Homo sapiens: one gene and its partners. The protein of the gene in region 1 purifies or fractionates together with the protein of each later gene. This does not show direct contact. Each region holds a gene or a part of one and is shown in the gene's direction. Other genes may lie near its edges. The genes, in order: PABIR1, PPP3CA, PPP2R2C and PPP2R2D.

Region 1 (3,074 bases):
TTAAGTTCTTGCCTGAGTGATCTCCCAGCCTGTCTTCTGTCTCCTTTTGGTTCAGTCTTTATACTGCCTCTTGAGTAATCTTTCTGAAATTTAAACTTGATATTTTTCGCCCTCTTGCTTGAAAACTTCACTTGCTTCCCCATTTCCTACTCTTTAAGGAATGATTTCTTTAGCCTCAGATAGAAGGACCTTTATGATCTGGCCATATTCTGAAATAGCTTCAATCCTCTCCTCATCTCTGTTCCAGTATACATCTTTCCTTCTTATTCTGCAAACATTAGACCACTTGATATTCTTTAAATATGTCATGTACTTTTCTTGTGTCTGTTCTTTGGGATAATTCCTATCCTTTTCAGGGAGGCAAATTGCACGTGAGTTTAAGTATGAAGGCAATGTATACCTGCTGATTGTAAAATATTTAAACATTGTACATATCTGTGTGGTTTTAAAAGTCTGCTTTTAATTATGTAAAATTCATCTTCCCTTTCCACAGATAACTTCTGTTAACAACTTGATATCTATTGTACAAGATGTGTTACTGGCATTTCCATGTATATATGTATATAAATGCAGGAAACCAACATGTCATTGACACCTCTCTTCTTTACTTTTCCCCATATCTAATCATTCCTCAAGTCTTACTGATTTTTATCAGCTAGAATCTATCTCCTTATTTCTACCTCTATTGCCACTCTGATCCAGGCTACCAGCATTTCCCTCTTAGGCTTCTGAAGCAACTTCCTAACTCCCACTTGTGCTCCTCACACTCACTCTGGTCGGCTATCCATTCATTCTCCATACAGCAACTAGAGTCATTCTTTTAAAATTGCGGACCTGATCCTTCCATCTCCCAGCTGAACGCTTTTCATTTGCTTCCTGTTCTCATGAGTATGCCAAAATGTATTAATTCTGGGCTAGGAGGCCCTGAGGAATTTGGTCCTTCCCTCCTCCCCCCTCGTTTTCTGTGCTTCGCCCTCACTGGCTTGCCTTTCTTTTCCTTAAATACATCATGTTCTCTCCTATTTTAGATCCTTTTCCCCGAAGGTATGGAAACATTATTTCTGTAAGCTTATTCTTCTATATAGATGGGAAGTTTTTAAATCAGATAAGGTTCTAAGGGCATGTGGACAATTTACGTTATCATAGTATTGTTCATAACGTCCATCATTATTCTGTAGACTGTAAGGGCTTACTTAGCTCGTGTAAGAATTATCCTTCAAAAAGCATTTTTAAGGTATTAGTATTGCTAATCTATAAACTTTGTGCAAGAAGTCCTAAAGTCAATAGCAACATTTATTTAAAGTACAGTTTGTCATACTTAATAAACCTCTGGTATATTTTCCTTTATTATGCTTGTTAAAAACACAGTATAAATGGGAGAAATCATTAAAGATCATTAACTCCAAGGCTGCTGGATGTTAGGACCCTTAAGCATACTTAAAAGATTGATTGTAATCAAGAATAACTTGTATCAGATTGCCTTCCAGTGATTCACATTTATTAGTTCAACCAGTTACATACCTGTAGCAAGAGACCAGTTTATTTGGCAATAAAATTGGGGAAGGAATCAAGACTTAAATGAGGAAAGTGAGTCTGAGAACATTTTTTTTCAGGGTGTGTTTATAGATTAGTAGAACAATTTTGAAGATCTAACAGAGGTGGGAGTCAGGGGAATGGTTGCCAGACAATTGAACCAAGAAGATGATGATCATTTCTTGAGTAGCACCAGAGAACAGAAGAAAGAGTTGGCCTTGGAAAGGAGGTCTGGAAACTTATTTTTCTTCTGAAACAGGAGGGAGAGTGAAAAGGCTAGGCAAAGATATCCATAAATGTTGAATTGATTTGTTGTTGCAGGGGTTTAGGAGTATGGAGGTAGGTATATGAAAAGTAGAATTTGTTTCTGATTGTGCCTATTTTCCAATTATTGAGGAATCTAAGATACATGAGGATAGGGACAGGAGATCATTTGGAAGCTTGAGTGCAGTAAAGGTTTAATGTTGCCTCTGAGAATCTAAAGGAGTAAGTTAAGGACAAGTAGAAGGCTTATTAGGCTATGATGGATGCCAGGTTGCAGTTGGATGGCAGGCACAAGGAAGTGGGTTGGATTGACTAGGTTTGGGAATTGGTTAAGTGGGTACTAGGTAAAGCCCAGTGTGTGAAGTAGTTAAGGGTTCTGCTGAAAGTGTAGTTTGAATGATTGGCTGAGGCATTGAGGATAAGAGAAGGGAGCAGAGGCTTATGGACTAGACCACTTTTTTCAGGGCTTTACCTTATCAGCCATGACAAAGTATAGAGAATCTGGTCTCAATGTAGGTCTCTCACTCCAGCAGTTTTGCCCACATTTTTCATGGCTGTTAGAGAATCAGGGCTGAAGGCAAGCCTTGAGTGCCACTTACTTGGTAAAAAATTGTGTCAGATTGCTCACTGTAGCCAAGACAGAGTTCTTTGTGGCTTCTGTAACTTGCCATCCAAGTAAAAAAATTTTCTTAAAAGTTGAAATGACCTTTGTATAAAAAGTAATAAAATACTTGCTATGTGTCAGGGACTGTTCTAAGTGCTAAGCAAATATATCAATGCATTTAATCTATCACTATCATCTGAGGCAAGTGCTATCATTATCCTCATTTTATAAATGAGGAAATGGAGACACAGGTTGAGTTACTTGCCCAGGATTCCAGAGCTGGGAGGTAGGCAGCGAATTGTGGTGGTTAGGAATATAGACAGTGGAGCAGGGTGGCTGTGGTGAGGATTGAATGGGTTCGTACACAATGTGCTTACAAAGATGCTGGGCAATTAGCATCCTTGATGGATGAAACTCCTGCTTTCACACTCAGTTAACAGTACAATATCCTTCAAAGCAGGCTATCCTTTTATGAAGCGATTGTTTCTGATGTTAGCCTTTCTTATAGTGAACAGACATTTCCCTCTAACTTCCACCATTCAATTCAAGTCCACCTTTGGCAAATGCAAAACAAGCCTTATTCTTCTTTTTATAGGTGATAGCCCCCTTCTAGAAATCAGAAATACTGATCCTTCTCTAATGACTACTTCTTCCTTCCAGATTTTAGAAATCT
Region 2 (7,036 bases), on another chromosome or scaffold:
CTATTGCCTAAAGTCAAAGACTTAAAGTGACACTCTTTCATATTATCCTATATTTCTTTCTAAGCATGGACATTTATGAGAATTCAGAATTTCTTTTTAAATTAGAACTTCTTTATAAAGTGATTGAAGAATTTGAATTAAGATTTGATGTAATTTATCCTAAGAAACAAGTGATTTAGGGATGCTACTGTTTGGAACAATAATTCTACTCATTAATCTCACATTACTCAAAAAACGCAAATGGAGGGCAAATTCAACCCTATGCCTCTGTTTTGGACCCAATAAATGAATACTAGCTTCTAGTGAATCTTATAAAACTGAAGATGATGTCATTCTTTAGACATAGACACTAGGAGTGTGGAGTGCTTTTTTCAATTTCTTTTTCCTCCTTACAATTTTTCTTATTATTCACTGAATCTTACAAAGGTATAAAACCTTACATTTTTGTTTTATGTATAAATACAGTTAAATGGAAGAGCTGGGAATCTCTCTATACATATCAATATTTTTCTCTTTCATTTAGTCCTATATTCAATGGAGCATAAAGACTTCTCCTCTTAAAACATTAGATATAAGTCATGGGAAAAGCAATGTGCAGTAAGATAGAAACAGCTTTAGGAAATGTCTTGCCATCTGCTTTTCTACAAAATCGTTAAGGAATATCAAGCAGCTTTATGGCTGTTTTTCTATTGGTCTTCCAGTTGTTCATGTACATTTTTTTGGTGAGACGTCTGCAGATAAATAGCCAGAATGTATATAAAAATTCTCTTGCTATACAAAACGTTATGAAAATTATAAAGTATGAATTAATAAATGACAAAAACAGGAAATACTAGATATAAAAGATTAATATGTTACTTTCAGAAAATCTTAATTATGTTTTGGAATTTTGTAGTATGTGCCTTTATGTTAATAATAGGGTCCTAGCAAGAAAACTTCTCAAAAAACCAAAACTATTTCAGTGAAATGATCCTGCCTATAAATCATAAGTATTCTTTTAATCACTTCTAAAAGGTAAAATAAAGTATTCAGAACGCGTATATGATGCCTGTATGGATGCCTTTGACTGCCTTCCCCTGGCTGCCCTGATGAACCAACAGTTCCTGTGTGTGCATGGTGGTTTGTCTCCAGAGATTAACACTTTAGATGATATCAGAAAAGTAAGTTTTGTTATTTTCCAAGTCTAATCATTTTGTGCGCTACAGTAATAAATAGAAGACATTAATTACCCTGCCTTTATCACTGACTTTATTCTTTTGAGTTCAAATAATTTAAAGTGGTCATGAATCGCTCCTTTGTGTTAAATTTTTATCTAGAAAGAGAGATATGTTTATACTTGGAAGAATTTTTATCTCTACAACCTCAGGGTTGGTCTTACCATCTGACATGTGTCTTTGGAAATATAAAATATTTGACCTCTAAAAAAAATATGCCTTATCATTTCCATTTGGCTTTTTTCAAACAATCCGTTGTATATTCATGATGTGTTATGCTAGAAATGTTGCTTTGCCCTTGGGAAAATATCATAACATAACCATTAAACTGTGCTCATTTTATGGTTTTTTAAAAATCTATTTGTTACAACTTGAGACTTTTAAGTAGCAATCTAACAAGGACAGTGATAATATTTTATTAATTTTACTGAGTGGCTGAGTGAAAAACTGGACTTTTTAAGAAGTATTTGTAAGAAGTTTTTAAGAAATACTCCAGTTTAGCATTGGCTATTAACAGTTGTTTAAACCAGCAAAAAGATGAGTTACATTGAATGTGGAAGTGGATTGTGTCTCTTTCTTGAGTAAATCTAGTAACATGGGATAGTTTTATGTAGTACAATAGATAGACAATCTTTTATTTCTTTGGTATGTTTCTAACTCTGATTGCAATGATGTAAAAGATAGAGAGTAATAAAAAATCGCAGTGTATTTTTCTTGGTGCCAAAATCGGACCAAAGGGAGAAAGTGATGTAAATGTTTTCTTAGGTCATTTTAAAATAATATTACTTGGAATTATTTTAAAGTATGATAATTTCTTCACATTGATATTTATAACATATGTTATTGAAAATTTGTGCCCACCATTAAGCTTTCTATCTAGGAAATCTAAGCCAAATTTTTTCTGGAGGAATTATAAACAGTTGAAAACTGTATTTATCTTCTTTCCTCTACTTTTAGAGACCTAAGAAAATACGCTTGTACTTATCCCATAGAACAGAGGGGTGAAAATAATTCTAACCTTTTATTATTATTCTCACCAGTAATTTTAGCAAGAATAAATTGGTCACATTGTTCTAAATTACTGTATTTGAACTATAAAGATTGGAATTTTGCTGAGATTTCTTCTAAAGATACATACTACTCAGTATATATTTAAGCCTAATGTATGATAGGTAGACTTTGGCTTCAAATAAGTGATGCACTAATCTCAAGGTGTACAGAATTTATTTCTTAAGTTATAGGTTCACTTAAGAATAACCATGGGCACAGTTCAAATTCTAGATCTTGCTTATCATTAGGGGCATTCATACAAAGACTCCCTTGGTGTCACTTGTTTGATTGATTGCCATTTAATTGTTTTTTTCCATTTCTTCTGAGTTTGGAAACTTGATTGCTAAGTCTGAGAAGTCTATATGATGAACATTTGCAAGTTAATTCTATCAGCTGCCATAAGTTATTAAATTAGTAAACAGTGTTTTCCCATTGTGTTCAGTGGAGAAGGAAAGCAAATATTTTATCTATTCATGTATCCATGTATCATATTAACCTGATAACCACTTATTGAAATAGGTTTGGAAAATGAAAAGTCAAATTACAAATAAGTATAGTAGTTTCTGTTAGCAAATGATGGGCATGAAAGACATGCATTTATGTTTTATTCTCTTGCCTTGATCAAATTTCATGGCCTTGGATGGAAGATGAGAAACTTACTAAGTGTCCTCCTTCAAAGGGGGATTAGTGAAAACTTCCCTCAAAATAGTGTTTTAATTATTTGAACAAAACTGATACACTGAATAGAGTTCTATACTGTAGAGAATAAATAGAAAGGATAAGGCTATTGTACTATTTTGTTTAAGACGCAATCACCAGCAAAAAGGTTGTAAACCTCTACTACAAAATGAATAACCATTTTCATATAGCTCTCATTTGTAGTGTTTCTTTAATACTTTTGTTAATGAAACTCATGGTTTTGAGGAAATACTTTAGTAAATTATGAATGTATTTGCATACCATAAGTCTCTACTACCATGAACTCAATATTCTTTTAAAGTTCATTAGTTTTTAGAGAAAAATTATTTTCAGGTAAAATAAAACATTCAAGTTCTTCCTATCATTGAGGTTCAAGTGTTCAAGTATAAAAATAATGTGTTTACTTTCCTATTGGAAAGAAAATGCATGCTTTTTATTTTAAAATTCAAGCGAAAGCACAATAAATAAACCTTGTTTCCTGCTCTGTGTCTTTGTGTCCATTTTTGCAAGACACTATTTCACACTTCTATAGAGCATAGAGCATTGGTCTTTGCTCTATATTTAAAGTACAGTAGAGATGTGATGCTGGTTCAGTATAAAATTGTTTCTTTCTGGGCCAAGCATGGTGCCTCACGCCTGTAATCCCAGCACTTTGGGAGGCCGAGGCAAGTGGATCATGAGGTCAGGAGTTCGAGACCGGCTTGACCAACATGTTGAAACCCCATCTCTACTGAAAATACAAAAATTAGCCAGGCATGGTGGCGCGCGCCTGTAATCCCAGCTACTCAGGAGTCTGAGGCAGGAGAATTTCTTGAACCTGGGAGGTGGAGGTTGCTGTGAGCCGAGATCGTGCCACTGCACTCCAGCCTGAGTGACACAGGGAGACTCCGTCTCAAAAACAGAAATGTTTCTTTCTGCATGAATATAACTAGCTCATTCTGTAATCTGATGGATTTTTTTTAAGTAAATAAACTTCACATCGTAAATTAAGTAGATTTTTTAAAATATCACCTAATATCCCTAGGACTTACTTCCCAGGATATTTTAGATATTATATTCAATTTTCATACATATCATTAAGCTCTGCACATGGCCAGAAAATGATTTTTAAGTTTTTATCTTGCCATATATCAAGTTTTTTTGTATTTGTTTATTTTTACTGTCAATTATATTAACTTTTAGAATGCACTGTATACTTTTTCCAGAATAAATGTTATATTCTGGTAGCTTTGCAGACCTTTAGTTGGGGATTCATATTAATCAGAAACTTTCCCCTCCTCTACTGTCCTACCCTTAATAAGTTATTGTTTTTCAGAAAGAAGTTCTGTATTTTTAGGGACAAGTATTATTTTTCTTGAATGTATTGTTCCAAGAGCATAAATTATTTAAATCTCTTAAACAAGTTTAAGTTTGCAATGAATATTTTGTGGCTAACATAATGGTTGAAATGTAGTCTTGTTTTATTGAAGTTTTTCATTGGGTATTGAAAACATAAAATATTGCCTCATTCTCTATAGATACTAATAAAAAGTAGTGTGCAACAAAACCATTACTTACATCTTGTATGTCCCAGAAAAAAAAAATAGACAATTTGATTAGTTGTAAGCAAAATATGTTCACTTGTCTTCATTGGATTTTTAAAAATATCAATATGAAGAATATCAATTCTTAATAGATTTTCAAAGCTATTGCATGCTTTTATTCAAGAGCCTTTATAATATCTGCTGATTCACCAAAGATCCTTTAATTGCAGTTAAATCAGGATAAACTAAAGTGTTTAAAATTGATCGTGATATGTTATTTCCAGTGATGATATTTCTAATATGCCTTCTAAATGCACCTTTTAAAATTGAAATGTGACTTCACTAAACATTTATAGCTGGAAAATTGATTTCATATGAAGGCTTCAGGTAAAATTATAAAGCTTAGAACTGTGAACTGAAGAATGACCCGCTAAAGTTGAGTTTATTTTACTGCTTATCATTACTCATATTTGTACCCACTAAGATCAACTACAGGAGGCTTGTAGTTTATCATTAGAAACCTAGATAGCCCATAATGAAATAGTATCCAAAATATCATATAGCAAGTGGCTACTTTTAAAGTAAAAGCCATCTTTTCTCAAAATCATGTTCTTAAATATAAAAAAATAACATAAGCATGAAAACTAGGAGTTGTTTTCCATCCAAACTTCTAAATCACAGTTTAATAGAGGCAGTAATAGGAATTTTCCCAAAGAAAGTAATTCTCAATAAATGAAACAGGGGTAGAGTCATAATAACTGGTCATGAAAAAAACATTTGGATAGATAAAGTAAGTAAGGAGAGAAGGATAAAATGTAGAATAGGAGAAATGAGAAACTGCGAAATCTAGAGATAATAGAGGCAAGAGGAAGGTAAAGGGTTAGATGAAGATAGATACTAAATGATCTCATCAGAAGGAAGCTGGAAAGAAAATTGGAGAGAGATGAAGGATAGGAAAACGAGTAGGAAGAAGGACAGGAAGAGAGAGAGAGGTAGAGGACATTTCACCCTGAGCTGTAGCTGGGGAGAAGAGGATGGGTTCTGCACAGTGCTTGTTTCTTGTATTGTCAGAATTCTAAGTTTCCAAAGATTAGTATTTTGCTCTCTGTCTTCTATTTTTCTTAGTTAGACCGATTCAAAGAACCACCTGCATATGGACCTATGTGTGATATCCTGTGGTCAGACCCCCTGGAAGATTTTGGAAATGAGAAGACTCAGGAACATTTCACTCACAACACAGTCAGGGGGTGTTCATACTTCTACAGGTAAGAATAGAGAACTTGCTCTCTGGAACACGTTTGCATCATAATGCTAGGATTTATCAGTCCATGTGTTTGATTTATTTATAATGTTTGTATTACTTCTTTAATATAAATGAAAGGCTCACTAGCATTTATAAAATGAAAATATAAATAAATGAATAAGTGAGTAAATAAATGTGAAATAGATATGTATACATATACAGGTGTACCTTGGGGATGTTAAGGGTTTGATTCTAGACCACCACAATAAAGCAAATATTGCAATAAAGCAAGTCATTATTTTTTTGGTTTCCCAGTGCATATAGAAGTTATGTTTACACTATACTGTAGTCTATTAAGTGTACAATAGCATTGTATCTAAAAAAAAAAAAACAAATGTACATACCTTAATCAGAAAATACTTCATTGCTAAACAATGCTCATGATCATCTGAGCCTTCAGCTAGTCATAATCTTTTTGCTGGTGGAGGATCTTGCCTCGATGTTGATGGTTACTGACTAATCAGGGTGGTAGTTTCTTTCTCAAAAGAAGACATTTATGTGGCCAAAAAACAATGAAAAAATGCTCATCATCACTGGTCATTAGAGAAATGCAAATCAAAACCACAATAAGATACCATCTCATGCCAGTTAGAATGGCGATCATTAAAAAGTCAGGAAATGGATGCTGGAGAGGATGTGGAGAAATAGGAACGCTTTTACGCTGTTGGTGGGAGTGTAAATTAGTTCAACCATTGTGGAAGACAGTGTGGCGATTGCTCAAGGATCTAGAACCAGAAATACCATTTGACCCAGCAATCCCATTACTGGGTATATACCCAAAGGATTATATATCATTCTACTATAAAGACACATGTATATGCATGTTTATTGCAGCACTATTTACAATAGCAAAGACTTGGAACCAACCCAAATGCTCATCAATGATAGACTGGAGAAAGAAAATGTGGTACATATACACCATGGAATACTATGCAGCCATAAAAAAGGATGTGTTCATGTTCTTTGCAGGGACATGGATGAAGCTGGAATCCATAAGAACTATTATTTTTGCCCCAATGCAACAAAGTATCACAAGAACAGAAAACCAAACACCTCATGTTCTCACTCATAAGTGGGAGTTGAACAAAGAGAACATATGGGCACAGGGAAGGGGAACATCACACACCAGGGCCTGTCAGGGGGTGGGGGGCTAGGGGAAGGATATTATTAGTATAAATATCTAATGTAGATGACGGGTTGATGGGTGCAACAAACCGCCAGGGCACATGTATACCTATGTAACAAAC
Region 3 (7,716 bases), on another chromosome or scaffold:
TCCATGACTAAAGCTAAACAAACAGACCCTATCACTCAGCAATTCCTAGAATTTCTTTTGAAGAGAATCTTGCTGTGTGGCCCAGGCTGGAGTGCAGTGTGGCACCATCCTGGCTCACTGCAACCCCTGTCTCCAAGGCTCAAGTGATCCTCAGCATCCCGAGTAGCTCGGACCACAAGCATGCACCACCATGCCTGGCTAATTTTTGCATTTTTTTAGTAGAGACGGGGTCTCCCATGTTGCCTCGGCTGGTCTTGAACTCCTGGGCTCAAGCAATCTGCCTGCCTCAGCCTCCCAGAGTGCTGGTGATATGAACTGCTGCACCCAGCCAGTTCCCAGAATTGTGTACACATGAATGCTGAGCCACAGAATTGTTGTTCATAATTAGCCTCCACACTGAACAAACAACCTATGTGCCCAACAACAGTGGGGTCAGCTGCAGTGTATTTCTGCCATAGAATATTACACAACAATGAAAAATGAATAAATTACAGTTACATATATATAAATAACATGAGTGCTTCTCAGAAAAAAAACATTGTGCAAATGAAAGCAGTTATGAAAACATTCCTACCTTACAATTTACTAGTAAACTAGTAAAACTACAGTGTTAAAAGTCAAGATGGGGGTTATCTTTGGGGTGGTGTCTTAGTCAGTTTGGACTGCTAGAACAAAAATACTGTAGCCTGGACGGCATAAACCACAATCTATTTTTCACAGTAATGGAGGCTGGGAAGTCCAAGGTCAAAGTGCCGGCAGATCCTGTGTCTGATGAGGGCTTCCTGATTTGTGGATAGCCAACTTCTTGTTGTGTCCTCATATGACAGAGAGAGAGGGAGAGGGACAGAGAGGGGAAGCAAACTCTCTCACGTCTCTTCTTATAAGGCGGCTAATCCCATTATGAGGGCCCCACCCTTGGGACCTAATCACCTCTCAAAGACCCCACCTCCTAAAACCATCACATTAGGGGACAGGATTTCAATATATGAATTTTGGGAGTCAACAGCTGTTCAGTCCATGGAAGTGGAGAGAGAGGGGAGTGAGGGAGGCCTCGAGAGGTGGCTAGCGCCCTTTCCTGACTTGGTGGTTAGATGAGTGTTTACTTTGTGGTCGTTCTTCAAGCTGAACAGTTAACTTTTGTGCAGTCGGCTTGGGCTGCCATAATAAACAAGATAGGATAAGTGGCGTAAACAACAGAAATGTACTTCCTCCCAGTTCTGGAGGCTGGAAAGTCCAACATCAAGGTTCTGGCCAATCTGGTTCATGGTGAGGCCCCTTCCTGGTTTGCAGGCGGCCACTGTCTCGCCGTGTGCTCCCGTGAGCACCTGGGGAGAGAGTGGGCAAGCTCTTTGGTCTCTTCCTATAGGGGCACTAATCTCTCCATGAAGACCCCACCCTCATGGCCTTGTCTAACCCAAATCTCCCAAAGGCCCCACCTGCAAACATCATCACATTGGGGGTTAGGGCTTCAGCCTGTGCACTTGAGGGGACATGGTGCGGTGCACAGCACACTTTCCATGCATGTTCTCTCTGTCAATTACAACAAGTTGGGGGCACAGAAGCACAGGGAGACATAGCCTGGTGGGGCCGTCAGAAGGAGTGGAGCATGTAAACCTGCTGAGAAGTGGCAGCGAAAGGTGGTGCCACTGAAGTAAAGGGAGGCGCATGGTCCACAGGGTGAGACCACGAGAACTCAGCATAGAGAGAGGCCAGCATGCGTCCACTGGTTCCAGGAACAGGAAAGTCATTCTCATGCCGTCTGACACAAGTTTCTTTTCTGGGGTGGGATGGATGGCAAGAAGCCAGGTTGGAGGGCACGGCAGTGAGTGAGGAGATGGCGAGTGTAGCTGTACCCTTTTGGCATTGTGGTTGTGAATGGCAGAAATGCAATGTGCTGGTGGCTGAAGGGACACGGAGTGAGGATAGCTTTTGAATGTGGAAGAGACCCAAGCAGGCTTACGCTGTGAGAAGCATCTGGAGAGATGCTGACAAATTTCACCTTATTGAGCTTTCCTCTACACTCACCTTTATAAAATGGCACCTCCTCCTCCCCGTTCCTTTCTATCTCCATCTCCATCCCCGCCTTCATCTCCATCTCCATCCCCATCTCCATCCCCGTTCATCTCCATCTCCATTCCCGCCTTCTCCTCTGCACCAGTCATGGCCCACACAGTACATGCTCACTTTATGCTGTCCATCTCACCCCACTGGGAGGCCAGCTCCACGAGAGCAGAGCATTTCTCTATTCTGTCTTCCACACTACCCTAGTGCTGGGAACATGCCTACACATAGTAGATGCTCAATAAACATTCCTCATTGAATGAATGAAAGTACAGAGAGGAGTCTGTACAGAGAGGCTGGGGGTGGCAGGATCTGGAGCTCAGGCTCTGTCAGCGGGGGCAGGGCTGTGTGCAGATACAGATGAGGAAGCAGCAGATTGTGTGATTTAGTGGAGGTGGGGGGTGGGCAGGGGGCTGAGGGAGAGTCCTCGGTTGTGCTGGAGGGGGAGGGCTTCCAGGAAATGGAGGAGACAGTGTGGAGGAGCCCAGACACTGCTTGTGGTGGGGGTGGGGCAGGATGGGGTGGTGAGGGGTGAGGAGGGGATGGATGCAAGCCTTGGGGCCCAGTCAGGTTGGAAAGACCACCCACTGCAGGGTCCCCAGCATGGCTCAGAAGCTGATGAAAGGGATGATGTACTGTGTCAGGCCAGAGTGGGGCTGTTTTCATTGTAGTCCAGGACATCCCGGGAGATGAGGCTGATGCCAGCATAGGGTGGGTGTTTTGGCAGGATTGACAGATAGGGAGAGGGGACTTCTCCATGATCAGAGAGGGAGGCTGAGGAACATGCGGGAGGGTGGGCCTCAGCATGATAACAAGAGAGCTCCCAGGAGGCCTGACCCCTGCTGAGCAGGACTGGCCACCCCAACCCAGTGGGGCCACTCCTGCCATCACATCCACTTTACAGATGAGGTTGTGCCTGGGCCCCCTTGTGGTCAGGACTTGAACCCAGCCTGTCTTTCTCCCAGCATAGCCATTTTGCTGGCTCCAGCTAGAGAGGTGAGGGGGTGTGGACAGAGAGTGGGGGGCTGGCCTTAGGATGTGAGGTGGGGGGCATGTGAGCAGACAGGTGAGAGAGAGAGAGGAGAACATGCCAGGTGGGTGGGGGCCAATGTGGGTGTCGGTCACTTTCCTACGGGGTAGAAAGTGACAAAGAACAAGCACATCCTTCCGGCCCTTGCATTTACCTGGTCCTTGAATGGAGTCTGCACAGCTGGGAGATTTTGGCTTGTTCCACAGTGAAAAGGTAGAGGCTGGAACAGGGCAGGGCACTTGCCAAAGCAGGTGCTGGCAGGGCCCCAGGGCCTCTCCCCAGGCCAGCCCTTGCATGACAGCCTGCAGAGTGCTGGTGGGGCTGCTGGGGGGCTTTCATCTCCTCATAGGTCCATTCTGGGGATTTCAAAGGCACGAAAGCTGTAGCTTCAAAAACTCCCTCTCAATCTCCAAGAAATCTGAGACGGCATCACCTTCCCTCGTCTTTCCCACAGCCCCAGTCTCCCTGCCCCCAACGCCTTTGGACTCTCCTACCTCCACTGCAGTTTGGGGAGCTGTCTGGAGTTCCCCCAGAACCATTTGAAACAAGTGGAGGCCATTACAGACCAGCCCCCACCTGGAGCATGGCTCCACTGATGCCTTAGACCCAAGAGCCCCTGCAGCTCTGGTCACCCCACTGCACTTACCCCTCCCAGGCAAGCCACAGAGTCCCTCGCTTTCCAGGAAGGCTCTGTTGAGCTCCTAGGGAGGGCTGATGGTTCCTCACCCACACCTCTGAATCCCCACTGGGGCTTGTGTCCCGTGCAGGGGACTGTGATTCATTAGGCGGTGGGTCACGGTGGAGGAGGTGGCAGCTTGGCAAAACAGGAGGCAAATATTTTTTGAGGGCCCACTATGTGCCAGGCTGATTACCAGAGGGAGGTTCCTGTTTGGCAGAGCCCTGGGTTTGGAGGGGAGGGAGGGAAGGGAGGAGGGGGACGCATTTTCCAGCCTGGTTTTGGAGGTACCTAGCTCTGTATTTCTTTAACTTTCTCACTCGTCAGGAGAGGTGGGCATGAGGAGAGATCTCAGAGCCCTGCCTGGGGGAGGCCCAATCACCCCTCCAGCCATTTCATCCAGTTTTGCCTTGTCGGCTGCTGGACCCCCTCCACCAGCTTCTTCACATGTACTTAATGCTCCCAACGGGCCCCAGAACTTGCGCGACCCACCCTCTTCTACTAATGAAGGGAGACAGTGTCCTTCCCCTCCCCCGAGTCCCCATTCTCCAGGTGCGCCCTCTTCAACTGCGACCCCACTCCTTCCTTCCTAGTCCTTTCTGCCTTCTGCCTGCGAGGCTGCTCTCCTCCTGCCCCCTTCCCAGCACCCCGGCTCTTGGCCTTCTCTCCCATAACTGGAGCACCTGGGCACCCAAGGTACCCTCCCCCCAAGCTCAGCTGATCACCCTCTCCCCGCAAGCTGGCGGTCTCCTTCCTCCCTCCCCCGTGGCGCACCCAGCACCAAGGTGCCCACCGCGAGGGCCCGAGCACGGCGGTGCAGCCTCGGCTTGGGCGCCGGCTCCACCTGCAGGGCCGCGGGGGCGGAGAGCGGGCGGCGCGAGGGAGGGGCCTGCGACAGCGGCGGCGGCGGCGGCCCCAGCCCGCGCAGCCCGGCTCGGCCCCGGCTTGGTCGGCGCAGCGCAGCGCCGCGCGCGTCCCCTCGCCGCCGTCGCCGCAGCCAGGCGCACCGGCACCAGGCCCCGCCGCCGGGCGCACGGACGCAGCGCGCACGGGCCGGCCGGGATGCGCGCCTGGGCCCCGGCCCGCCCGAACCCGCGGCCGCCGCCCGCCCACCGCGCGCTCGCTTGACCGCGGCGCCCGCCCCCGGCCGCCCCCGCCCGTCCCCCTGCCGCGATGCCCTCCCTTCGGGGCCCCGGCGGCCCGCGCCCCTGCTAGGCTGCGGCGGCATGGCCCGCGCGCCCGGCGCGACCTCTGCGGATTGCATCGGTGTGTGGCGGCGGGGCATGCCCAGAGCACCGGGCACGGCCTTCAATGGGCGAGGACACGGACACGCGGAAAATTAACCACAGCTTCCTGCGGGACCACAGCTATGTGACTGAAGGTAACGTACGTGTTGTCTGAGACCCCTCCGGCCGGCCGCGGCGTGGGGATGCCGTCGCACCGAATGCCCTCCGAAGGTTTGGACCGCGCGATGTGTGTCGTGTCCCCCCGCCCCACCCCACCCCACCCCATCCCACCCCACCCCACCCCATCCCATCCCACCCTGCCCGGGGCCCAGGAGGGAGGGAGCCCGAGGGTACCGGCCTCCGCTGCCCAGCGCCGGCACAGGGCAGCGCCCTCCTCCGCGCCGCCCTCCGGGAGGCAGCTTTCCTCTCCCAAGCCAGGTGGCATCCTGATTCGGCCCTGACCATAATTTTTTAAAAGGCCACGGCTGTGGCTAATCTGGTGAAGAAATCTCGGGGAAATTTAATGGTTTAAATCCTGGATTTGCCATTTCAGCCCTGCCCAAAGCCCGCAGAATTTTCTAGGCTGCCCTCTCCCTGGAGAAGAAGAGGGACCCGGGGGGAAAAAAACATAATCCATTGCCAGATCCTCCTGGGAGGCCCGCCTGCCCGGGCCCCTCCCTGTCCTCCAGAGGCAGGGTCCCTGAGTGGGAGGGAGAAGGCGGCTGGTTTGGGGCTGGCCTTTTTATTCCTGGTGAGTTATATTGAGACAGGAGCAGCTGGGCTAACTGTCGGGATTTTCCAAAAAAGTGGGACATGCCATCCCAAACAGGCCCTGTTTAAAATCCCCTAAGTTGGCCCTACAAGCCCAACCCCCACCCCCACCCTACCCCCGAGGCTGGTGGGTCAGCGCCCCTCTCTTACAGGCCTGGAACTTCCGGGGGCCCCCTGGTCTGCCTCGCTAGGGGAACAGTGGGGACAGCTTCCGTGCGCAGGCAGGGCCCGCGGAGTGACCCCGATGGAGGATGGGGACCGGGAGGTCTGGGCTCGGGGCCGCCTGTGCTGGAGCCCTGCCCGAGTGCGGGGACTGTCAGCCGCTAACCCACGGGCTGGCGGCCCGGCCGCAGAAGTGTGCGCGGATTCCCCGGGTGGGTGCCCCAGTGGGAGGGGCCCTGGGCACGGGTCCCGCGGGGCAGGTGCGCGTGGGTGCCTGTGTCAGGGAGACCGAGTGGGCCAGGCGGCGGAGACCGGGCTCCTGCGGCTGGGTCCGCCTCCTCGAAGCCTGGCTCTGCCGGAAATGAGGCCGAGCGGAGCCGGAGCCCCGCGGAGGCCCGGGGAGCGCAGCGCGAGCGCGGGCGCGGGCGGGCTCGGGGCGCCCTGGCCCGGGAGGCAGAGGCTGGGCGTGGGACCTGGGCGGAGGGAGGCTGCGGGGGCCGCGCCCGCTCCCGGCGGGAGAACCGCTGAGTCACGCACGCTTCGCCGCCGGGTGTGTGCGAGAGAGGGGCAGGGCTGCCCGGGCCTCCGGGCCGGTGGGGCTCTGACCCGGCCGCGGCTTTGGGAGGCCCGGGGAGCTGAGAGCGGTCCTTTGTCGCCTGCTTCGGCGAGGCTGAGTCGGGATCAGCGTGGGTCCGGGATGTGGTTTCTGCTCGCAGCCTGCAGCGACAGAGGGTTGGAGGAAGCCGCCGGGTTGCTGGCCCGTGCCTCGGTGGCCTGGCTCGGGCCGAGAGCGGATCTTGGCAGGTTGCCCCGCTGCTCCCAGGCTCGCTGTGGTCTGGCTTCCTGGAGCAAGCCTCTGTTTGCTCATCTCTACGTTGGGGATGACGGTGGGATGGGGCGCAGGGCTCGTTGTGGGACCAGGCGTAAAAAGCGCCATGGTGGACATTTTCAAACATTAATTCCCTCTGCACCCTGCCCGTCCCCTTTTCTTTCATAAATTCACCAGCCCTCAGCAGGGCACAGGAACGGGGACGGCACAGTTCTGGAGGTCAGAGCAGTGCTATCCAATCCTTCATCCAGACACGAGATATTTACCGAGCACCTGCTGCATGCCGGGCACTGTTTTATCCCTGGGGACTGGACAAAGACTCCCTGCCCTTGTGCGGCCTGAATTCTATCAGGGAGCTATATGACCTTGAGGTCTGTCTTCTCACCAGGGCTCAGTCTCCCCATCTGTAAAATGGGAGTGAATCCTGCCTACAGGGTCTGGAGGTTTCTGTGAGGAGCAGGTGCAACGGTGTTGAAGGAGCCGTTCAGAGCTATGCATTGCTAACGTGCAGCCAAAGGATGCTGAGCACCTGCTGTGTGCTGGGACCTCATACGAAGGCTCACCTACGCCTTATCCCCACCTTGAGATGAACAAACCAAGGCCTGGCCTTGTGCCTGGTCCAGACCGAGTGCCAGTGTGTGCAGGGCATAGGGCTCAGGTGCTGCGGATGCAGAGAGCAGGATCGGAACAAGAAACAATAATAATCATTATAATAGGTAGAATTCTGGCCTCCCTAATGAAAAACACACTTTCACACTGTTGCATCCTGACTATATTTCATGCTCAGAGCACAGGGAAGGTCACAGATTTGAATGTCAGAATGTCAGACTTGAATCATGTTAAAGTCCTGCCTCTGACTCCTGACTGCTGTGCAGCCTTGGACAAGTTACTACACCTTCCTGAGCTTCACTTTCCCTTTGTAAAGGGAGAAATAATAACGACCTTTCATACAGGGTTGCTG
Region 4 (7,036 bases), on another chromosome or scaffold:
CTACCCAGATGGTGCAGAAGCAGCCAGAGACAGTATGTGCACACATGGGCCTGACTGTGTTCCACTAACACTTGCCTTAAATACGGCAGGCTGCATTCAGCAGACCTGCTCCAGAAAACACGGCAGGCTGCATTCGGCAGACCTGCTCCAGAAAACACGGCAGGCTGCATTCGGCAGACCTGCTCCAGAAAACACGGCAGGCTGCATTCGGCAGACCTGCTCCAGAAAACACGGCAGGCTGCATTCGGCAGACCTGCTCCAGAAAACACGGCAGGCTGCATTCGGCAGACCTGCTCCAGAAAACACGGCAGGCTGCATTCGGCAGACCTGCTCCAGAAAACACGGCAGGCTGCATTCGGCAGACCTGCTCCAGAAAACACGGCAGGCTGCATTCGGCAGACCTGCTCCAGAAAACACGGCAGGCTGCATTCGGCAGACCTGCTCCAGAAAACACGGCAGGCTGCATTCGGCAGACCTGCTCCAGAAAACACGGCAGGCTGCATTCGGCAGACCTGCTCCAGAAAACACGGCAGGCTGCATTCGGCAGACCTGCTCCAGAAAATACGGCAGGCTGTATTTGGCAGACCTGCTCCAGAGAACACGGCAGGCTGCGTTTGGCAGACCTGCTTCAGAAAATACGGCAGGCTGCATTCAGCAGACCTGCTCCAGAAAACACAGCAGGCTACATTCGACAGGCTGAATTCGGCAGACCTGCTCCAGAAAATACGGCAGGCTGCATTCGGCAGGCCTGCTTCAGAAAATACGGCAGGCTGCATTTGACAGACCTGCTCCAGAAAATACAGCAAGGCTGCATTCGGCAGACCTGCTCCAGATGCATACCTAGAAGTGGAGTCGAAGAGTCGGAAATCAAGTTCGTTCTTTTTTTTTTTTTTTTCCCTGAGTTTCATCTGAGATTTTTTTGAGCCAGGATTTTTTAGCTTTAAAAAATATGTATGGTCATTTGATATTCAAATTTATAGTACTGAAATTTTCTCTACACTGTGCTTTGTTCATTAAAACAGCTCTCATGTTTCCTTGCAGAATAAAAGCCGCCCTCATTCTAGGGGAGAATATAATGTTTACAGCACCTTTCAAAGTCATGAACCGGAGTTTGACTATTTGAAAAGTCTAGAAATTGAGGAAAAAATTAATAAAATTAGGTGGTTACCACAACAGAATGCTGCTCATTTTCTACTGTCTACAAATGGTAAGAATTGTGTTCTAAGTGGCTGTTTGATTTAGTTTTTTATTTTTAATTTTCTGTGTGTGTGTAGATTCCTTTTTATTTTAGAAGTTATTCCTGCTTTAAATTTTGGGGGGAGGGTAAGTTATCTAGGGTAGCAAGTGATAGGTTGAAAATTCAAAGTATGCAACAAAAACCACACGTGCACTTTATTATGCTGTTACTCTGCACGTCTGCACATCTTTCTTTATTGTACAAAACACCTCCAATTGGAAATATTCATGTTCAGAGACCCCATAGCTTATAACCCAATATAGGACCACACCGCTTTCTAATACCAGTACTCAAACAGTAGTGATGCATGTTATAGTTTTTCTTTTCATATGGAGAATGAGGTTTTTATTTTCAGATAAAACTATAAAATTATGGAAAATAAGTGAACGGGATAAAAGAGCAGAAGGTTATAACCTGAAAGACGAAGATGGAAGACTTCGAGACCCATTTAGGATCACGGCGCTACGGGTACACGTTGCCTTTGCTTTATCCAATGCTGTTGAGAAGTTAAGAATAAACGTTTCAGTCTGCTGTCTGGAGAGTGCTGCGCGGTGGAGTACTGTGAGGTCTGCTGTGAGGTCTGCCTCGTGATTCCTGAAAGTCGTTTGCACTCATGTGTGTGTTTAAAAGCAAGGTCTTTCTCCTGTTTTCACAAAGGCAGAAAGTCACATGTGGTCCTTAGGAAACACAGCAATACTAAGGGGAAAACTCATATTTAATTCTACAGCAGAAATCTTTGTGGACATAGCAACCACCCTTCTCTCAGAAGGTTCAGAACAGCACCTGGGAGGTTGGAGTTCAGATGAAATTCAGAACACCTCACAGGTGCAGTAGCACAGGTTGCAGGTCGAAAGATGAGCTGTGGGCCACAGGTACATTCAGGACGCTTCTCGGGGAATTTCTTTGGGGTTGGTTTAGGCAGATGCTGATGGTTCAGAACTCTCCACCTGTCCATCCATGAGCATCATTACTTTTTTAATTGTTAAATTATTTGCTCCATTGTTGGTAGTATGAAATGATCATATTTCATCAATTCTGATGCCTAAATTTTTTCATATTTTAACATTTATGAAACCGGCTAAAACTCAAAACCTCAATGTCTTATAATTGGCCTGGTGCTACGCACCACTGATGTTGTCTTAAATTAGATGGAACATGGTGAAGGGTGTCCGGCAAACTGGGCTCGAGCCCAGGTGTGTCTTGGTGAGAAACCAGCACCTGTGCAGAGGTGTGTCCCCTGGAAGGAAACTCTGCCTGGTCCCAAGGGGGTGCCGTTACTAGATTGGAAAACCGTTGGTTGTTTGGGTGGTTGGGTGGTTTGGTTGCGGGGGGTGGGTGGTTGAGTTGGGTGGTTTGGTTGGTTTTTAATGAGATTTCAGCCCCTTTTACACTATTGTTTATCAAGTGAAGACTGAGTGAGTGAGCCCATTCCACATTAGTCTTGGAGAGTGCTACAGAGGACGCTGTACCGCAGAAGCCTTTCCCTAACACATGTGCCTCTGGGAGTGATGTTGGGTCTGTTCTGATGCCATTTCTCCAGCTTTGCCGTGTGGGGTGGCTACACCTGGGGTTGTGCATTCCTCAGGAGGAGTGTCCTCAGACTTCTCACATCGATGTTGTCACCGTATTTCCTATGAGTTCATCAAAGCGAGAAAGGCTGTGGCATTTGCTGAAAATCTAGTTTATAGGGTCCTAATTTGAACCAAGATGTTTTGATCCAAAATGTTGGTGATGTCTGATACACAGTGCTGCCGCCTTTGCACCCCTGAATTAGTGTAAATCACTTTTAGTGACAGTAACACGAGTTGTGCAGTTCCATCATCATGAAACTGCTGATCCTAAAGTAGAAGTGTGATGGGACCCCCGAGGGTGGGCACTTGACCCCCTCCAGCCTTGTCCATCTCTTCTGCAGCCAACACCACCTCCCACCCAGTTACCTGTGCACACCCCACCCTCAGAAACCCCTGTTCCTCCTGATCAGACCCTGCCACAACCCATCAGCTCACGTGCTCATTTTGGGAGAACAGTAGGCCTTTACTAGGCCCAGTCTTGGTTTTATTCAAGGCTGCTTTTGTAGGTTTAGCCTAAATAAAACGGGTATAATTGGTGGCCCTACTGAAGGTGTGTGAGAAGTCTAGTTATTTCATTAGTTGGTGCATGGGGAAGAGACCACAGACAGGTAATTCTGTACATTGACTTAGGTCGGTATTTGAGATCTTACCTCTCTAACAGTTCAGAGTGGGCTATTTATGTATCTGAGCCTAACTGGGTAAGAGTCAGACATGTTGCTGTTTTTAAATTTTTGCTCTTAAATTATTTTAGTGCCAGAAAAGGGATATAATTAAAAGAAGAAATCTTGGCCAGGTATGGTGGCTCATACCTGTAATCCCAGCACTTTGGGAGACCGAGATGGGAGGATCACTTGAGCCCAGGAGTTCAAAGACCAGCCTGGGCAACATAGCCAGACCCCATCTCTAAAAATGAAAGCAAATTATTTTATATGCAAATTAAAATGTTTTCAATAAAAGAAGGAATCTTTGTAAGTATTGCAGCTATCATATGTTTTGATTAATGGGAAATTTGTTAGAGGATTGGGGTAGGTGTGTGTTTTTAAGCCTGAACTTGGTAGAACTGACTCTTCTTGCTCTAGAGAATCCAAGGGTGTGGTCAGCACTACCTGGGTTAAAATGAGGGAAGCCTCCCTACACACACTTTTCCAAGTTGGTTTTTTACAGAATTCAGCCAGACAAGACTCAGTTGAGAGCTTTTCTTTTTCCCCTAAGCTTTCAAGGCTCTCCCTTTTGGTTTCTAATTACAAGAATAACAAAAAATACTATCATTAATTTTTTGTTTTGATTTTAAAGCTTATGTTTTTCTTCCAGCTGGATGTTAGTGAGACACAGGCCTTTTTCCTTTTTTCATGTGTGATGCTATTCCTCACGCCTGAGCTCTCACCTCTGACCATAGGCGGCCTGCAGCCAGCGCCCACTCCTCTCTGTCCTTTCTATTTCTGTGCGAATTGGGCTTCCCTAGGAAGCCTCCCTGACCACAGCACTCAACACAGAGATGGGGGCGGGAGGTACCTTCTACTTTTTGTTTTAACCTCAAGTGAAGTGTAATATATAATACATACCTCCAGATAAGACATCTGCCCTATAAGTGACCAGCTCCATGAATGTTTGTAGGGTGCACATGCCCATGTAGCCAGCCCCAGACCAAGAAATGGAATATCCTCAGCTCCCCAGCACCCTGCTGTGCACCCTGCCAGTACCTGGAGCCAGTGGAGGTTTGTGGGGTTTGCACCGAGAAGCATAGTCCTAGTGCAGTGAGAAGAGGTGTGTGCATCTAGCTGCAAGGAGAGGACAAAGGGAGGGGTGCAGCTGAGCCACCCAGGAGGACTTTGCTGTCCAGCGCCTCAGTGTGGCCACTGGAGGACACACAGGAGAGGGAGCCGCAGGCCTCGGTGCCTGGGCAGTTTGTTACCCTGCCAGCTGATCTTCTCTTCAGCAGGAACATGTCGACCTCGGTAATGGAAGCAAGGGGAAGACTTGGAATAGACAGTATTCCATTTTGTAGCATATTTTCATAACTCTGCTAATTGGTTATTTGGGGGTATTGCCTGTACAGAATTATTACTTAGCCATGAATATAAACTTGTCCTCTTTCGTTATCTACTATAAGTGTTCTAATTATGTGCTGCTGTGATCTTTGTTTTGAATTCCTATTTCCTTCCATTTTTAGGTCCCAATATTGAAGCCCATGGATCTTATGGTAGAAGCGAGTCCACGGCGAATTTTTGCAAATGCTCACACATATCATATAAATTCCATTTCAGTAAATAGTGATCATGAAACATATCTTTCTGCAGATGACCTGAGAATTAATTTATGGCACTTAGAAATCACAGATAGAAGCTTTAGTATCCTTCCTCAGAGGGACACTGGCGTCTTCCCGAGGGTGCTCTTTAGATAGTAATTTCTCTCGTCCCTTTATACACCTGTATCTCGGAGTCTAGTCTTGTAAATACCATCACTGCACAGCAGCCTGTGATGTAAGTTCTCTGTGATTTGAAATGTTTGTCCCTAAAAATACAAATTTCTTTCTACCTTTGGGAAAAAGTTATCTGTATAATGGGAATTACCTGAAGTCCACTGCCTGCCTGGTTTAATCAGAGGCAGTTTTAAATAGGCTACATTTGAAAAACCAACATTATGTGTTCTTTTTTTTTTTCTAAATTTGCTAATGAATAATAGAAAATACTGGCTTAGGTTAGAGCAGTGTTTAATCACCCATCTGAGCAGCAGCTTCCAGTTAGAACCTGTGTTCTTCTGTGGCTGTGCACAGTCTGGGTGGCCCCAGCCCTCCTCACATGGGCCCCTTTCCAGCCAGCAGCCGGGAGCATGGGGCTTGCTTCGTCTGCAGCCTCTCCAGGGTCCCTGCCGTCCTCCCTCTGCTGTCCAGTGGCTTGAGCTGGGGTTCCATGTCGTATGTTGGTTTTCTTAGTTGTTTCAGCTTGAAGGGTGAAACTGGGACTGCTAGTCTGAATTGGCCCACAGCTGAATTCTGCCCTTTCTTATTTTTTTCAGTTGAAGGATTTCTGTATAGGATTTCTGTTGGATCTGTTCTAGCTACACAGAATAAGCTCTTCATGTCAGGAAGAGCAGCATCTTTTGGAATTTGGCGGCATTCTTGTGTTGTAGTTTTGTGTGGGAGTGTGGGATTTTGCACAGATGGTACTAGCTTGGTTTTCCTATTTATATGATTAAGTATGTACTATCTTGCTATTAAGGGCTTTCTGTATAACATTAATAATAGCAGCAAGATGAAAGCGGTGTTCGCTTGTCTGTGTCTCCCCCTGGGCCGGGGCGTTGCTGTAGTCTGAGTGTGCTCATCCCAATCCCCTTACCAGGCGCTCCTTTGGAATTCGGGATGTGTAACCAGCCTTCTTAATAGCTAATCCCTTAAACCTCACTGCGTGGATTATTTGGCGTCCTATTTCGCGTGACTGAATGTAGACTAATTAACAACCAGCTGAGCTGAGCACTGTGCCTTAACCATGCACTCCCAGACATCGTGGACATCAAGCCTGCTAACATGGAGGAGCTGACCGAAGTCATCACTGCAGCCGAGTTCCACCCGCACCAGTGCAACGTGTTCGTCTACAGCAGTAGCAAAGGGACCATCCGCCTGTGTGACATGCGCTCCTCGGCCCTGTGCGACAGACACTCCAAGTGTAAGTGCGTCTGTTGTTGAGATGGAGTCTGGCTCTGTCACCCAGGCTGCGGTGCAGTGACACAGTCTCGGCTCACGGCAAGCTCCGCCTCCCGGGTTCCAGCAAGTCTTCTGCCTCGGCCTCCCGAGTAGCTGGGACCACAGGCAGGTGCCACCATGCCCAGCTAGTTTTTGTATTTTTAGTACAGACAGGGTTTCACCATGTTGACCAGACTGGTCTGACCTCAGGTGATCCCCCTACCTCGGCCTCCCAAAGTGCTGGGATTACAGGTGTGAGTCACCGCACCTGGTCACGCCTGGCGTCTTTTAAAGCATCTCATTTAGAGCCACTTGTTCTTCAGACACTCCAAAGACTTAGAGAGTTCTTCCTGTTCCCCAAGTGCCTTTGCACAACTGGGGAGCCCTCCTTTGCTGGGGCCGTCCGAGTGTGGCTGTGTCAGAGGCTGCTGCTAATAAGTGGAACTCGAGGTCATGCTTCCCACAGGCTTATGGCTGTAGGGTGAGTGTGCTTTTGGCACCACCGAGAAGCGGGGTCACTTCTGCCCAGAGCCTGGGTGTCTCCTCAGA

What was found.
Region 2: the proteins of PABIR1 (region 1) and PPP3CA purify together in Homo sapiens (affinity purification with mass spectrometry; 3 studies listed by BioGRID and IntAct, with this or other methods). This does not show direct contact.
Region 3: the proteins of PABIR1 (region 1) and PPP2R2C purify together in Homo sapiens (affinity purification with mass spectrometry; 4 studies listed by BioGRID and IntAct, with this or other methods). This does not show direct contact.
Region 4: the proteins of PABIR1 (region 1) and PPP2R2D purify together in Homo sapiens (affinity purification with mass spectrometry; 4 studies listed by BioGRID and IntAct, with this or other methods). This does not show direct contact.

What each region holds. Positions count from the first base shown.
Region 1 is NC_000009.12:68,783,022-68,786,095, forward strand, and holds the end of PABIR1 (PPP2R1A-PPP2R2A-interacting phosphatase regulator 1), read left to right. Parts: 3' UTR 1-2,545; downstream 2,546-3,074. UniProt on the Homo sapiens protein: Acts as an inhibitor of serine/threonine-protein phosphatase 2A (PP2A) activity. Inhibits PP2A activity by blocking the substrate binding site on PPP2R2A and the active site of PPP2CA.
Region 2 is NC_000004.12:101,092,491-101,099,526, reverse strand, and holds part of PPP3CA (protein phosphatase 3 catalytic subunit alpha), read left to right. Parts: intron 1-1,014; coding exon 1,015-1,160; intron 1,161-5,611; coding exon 5,612-5,751; intron 5,752-7,036. UniProt on the Homo sapiens protein: Calcium-dependent, calmodulin-stimulated protein phosphatase which plays an essential role in the transduction of intracellular Ca(2+)-mediated signals. Many of the substrates contain a PxIxIT motif and/or a LxVP motif.
Region 3 is NC_000004.12:6,469,592-6,477,307, reverse strand, and holds the start of PPP2R2C (protein phosphatase 2, regulatory subunit B, gamma), read left to right. Parts: upstream 1-4,693; 5' UTR 4,694-5,078; coding exon 5,079-5,148; exon of another isoform or gene 5,149-5,196; coding exon of another isoform or gene 5,197-5,224; intron 5,225-7,716. UniProt on the Homo sapiens protein: The B regulatory subunit might modulate substrate selectivity and catalytic activity, and might also direct the localization of the catalytic enzyme to a particular subcellular compartment.
Region 4 is NC_000010.11:131,938,990-131,946,025, forward strand, and holds part of PPP2R2D (serine/threonine-protein phosphatase 2A 55 kDa regulatory subunit B delta isoform), read left to right. Parts: intron 1-1,041; coding exon 1,042-1,207; intron 1,208-1,592; coding exon 1,593-1,705; intron 1,706-1,778; exon of another isoform or gene 1,779-1,803; intron 1,804-4,978; coding exon 4,979-5,156; intron 5,157-6,305; coding exon 6,306-6,470; intron 6,471-7,036. UniProt on the Homo sapiens protein: Substrate-recognition subunit of protein phosphatase 2A (PP2A) that plays a key role in cell cycle by controlling mitosis entry and exit. Involved in chromosome clustering during late mitosis by mediating dephosphorylation of MKI67.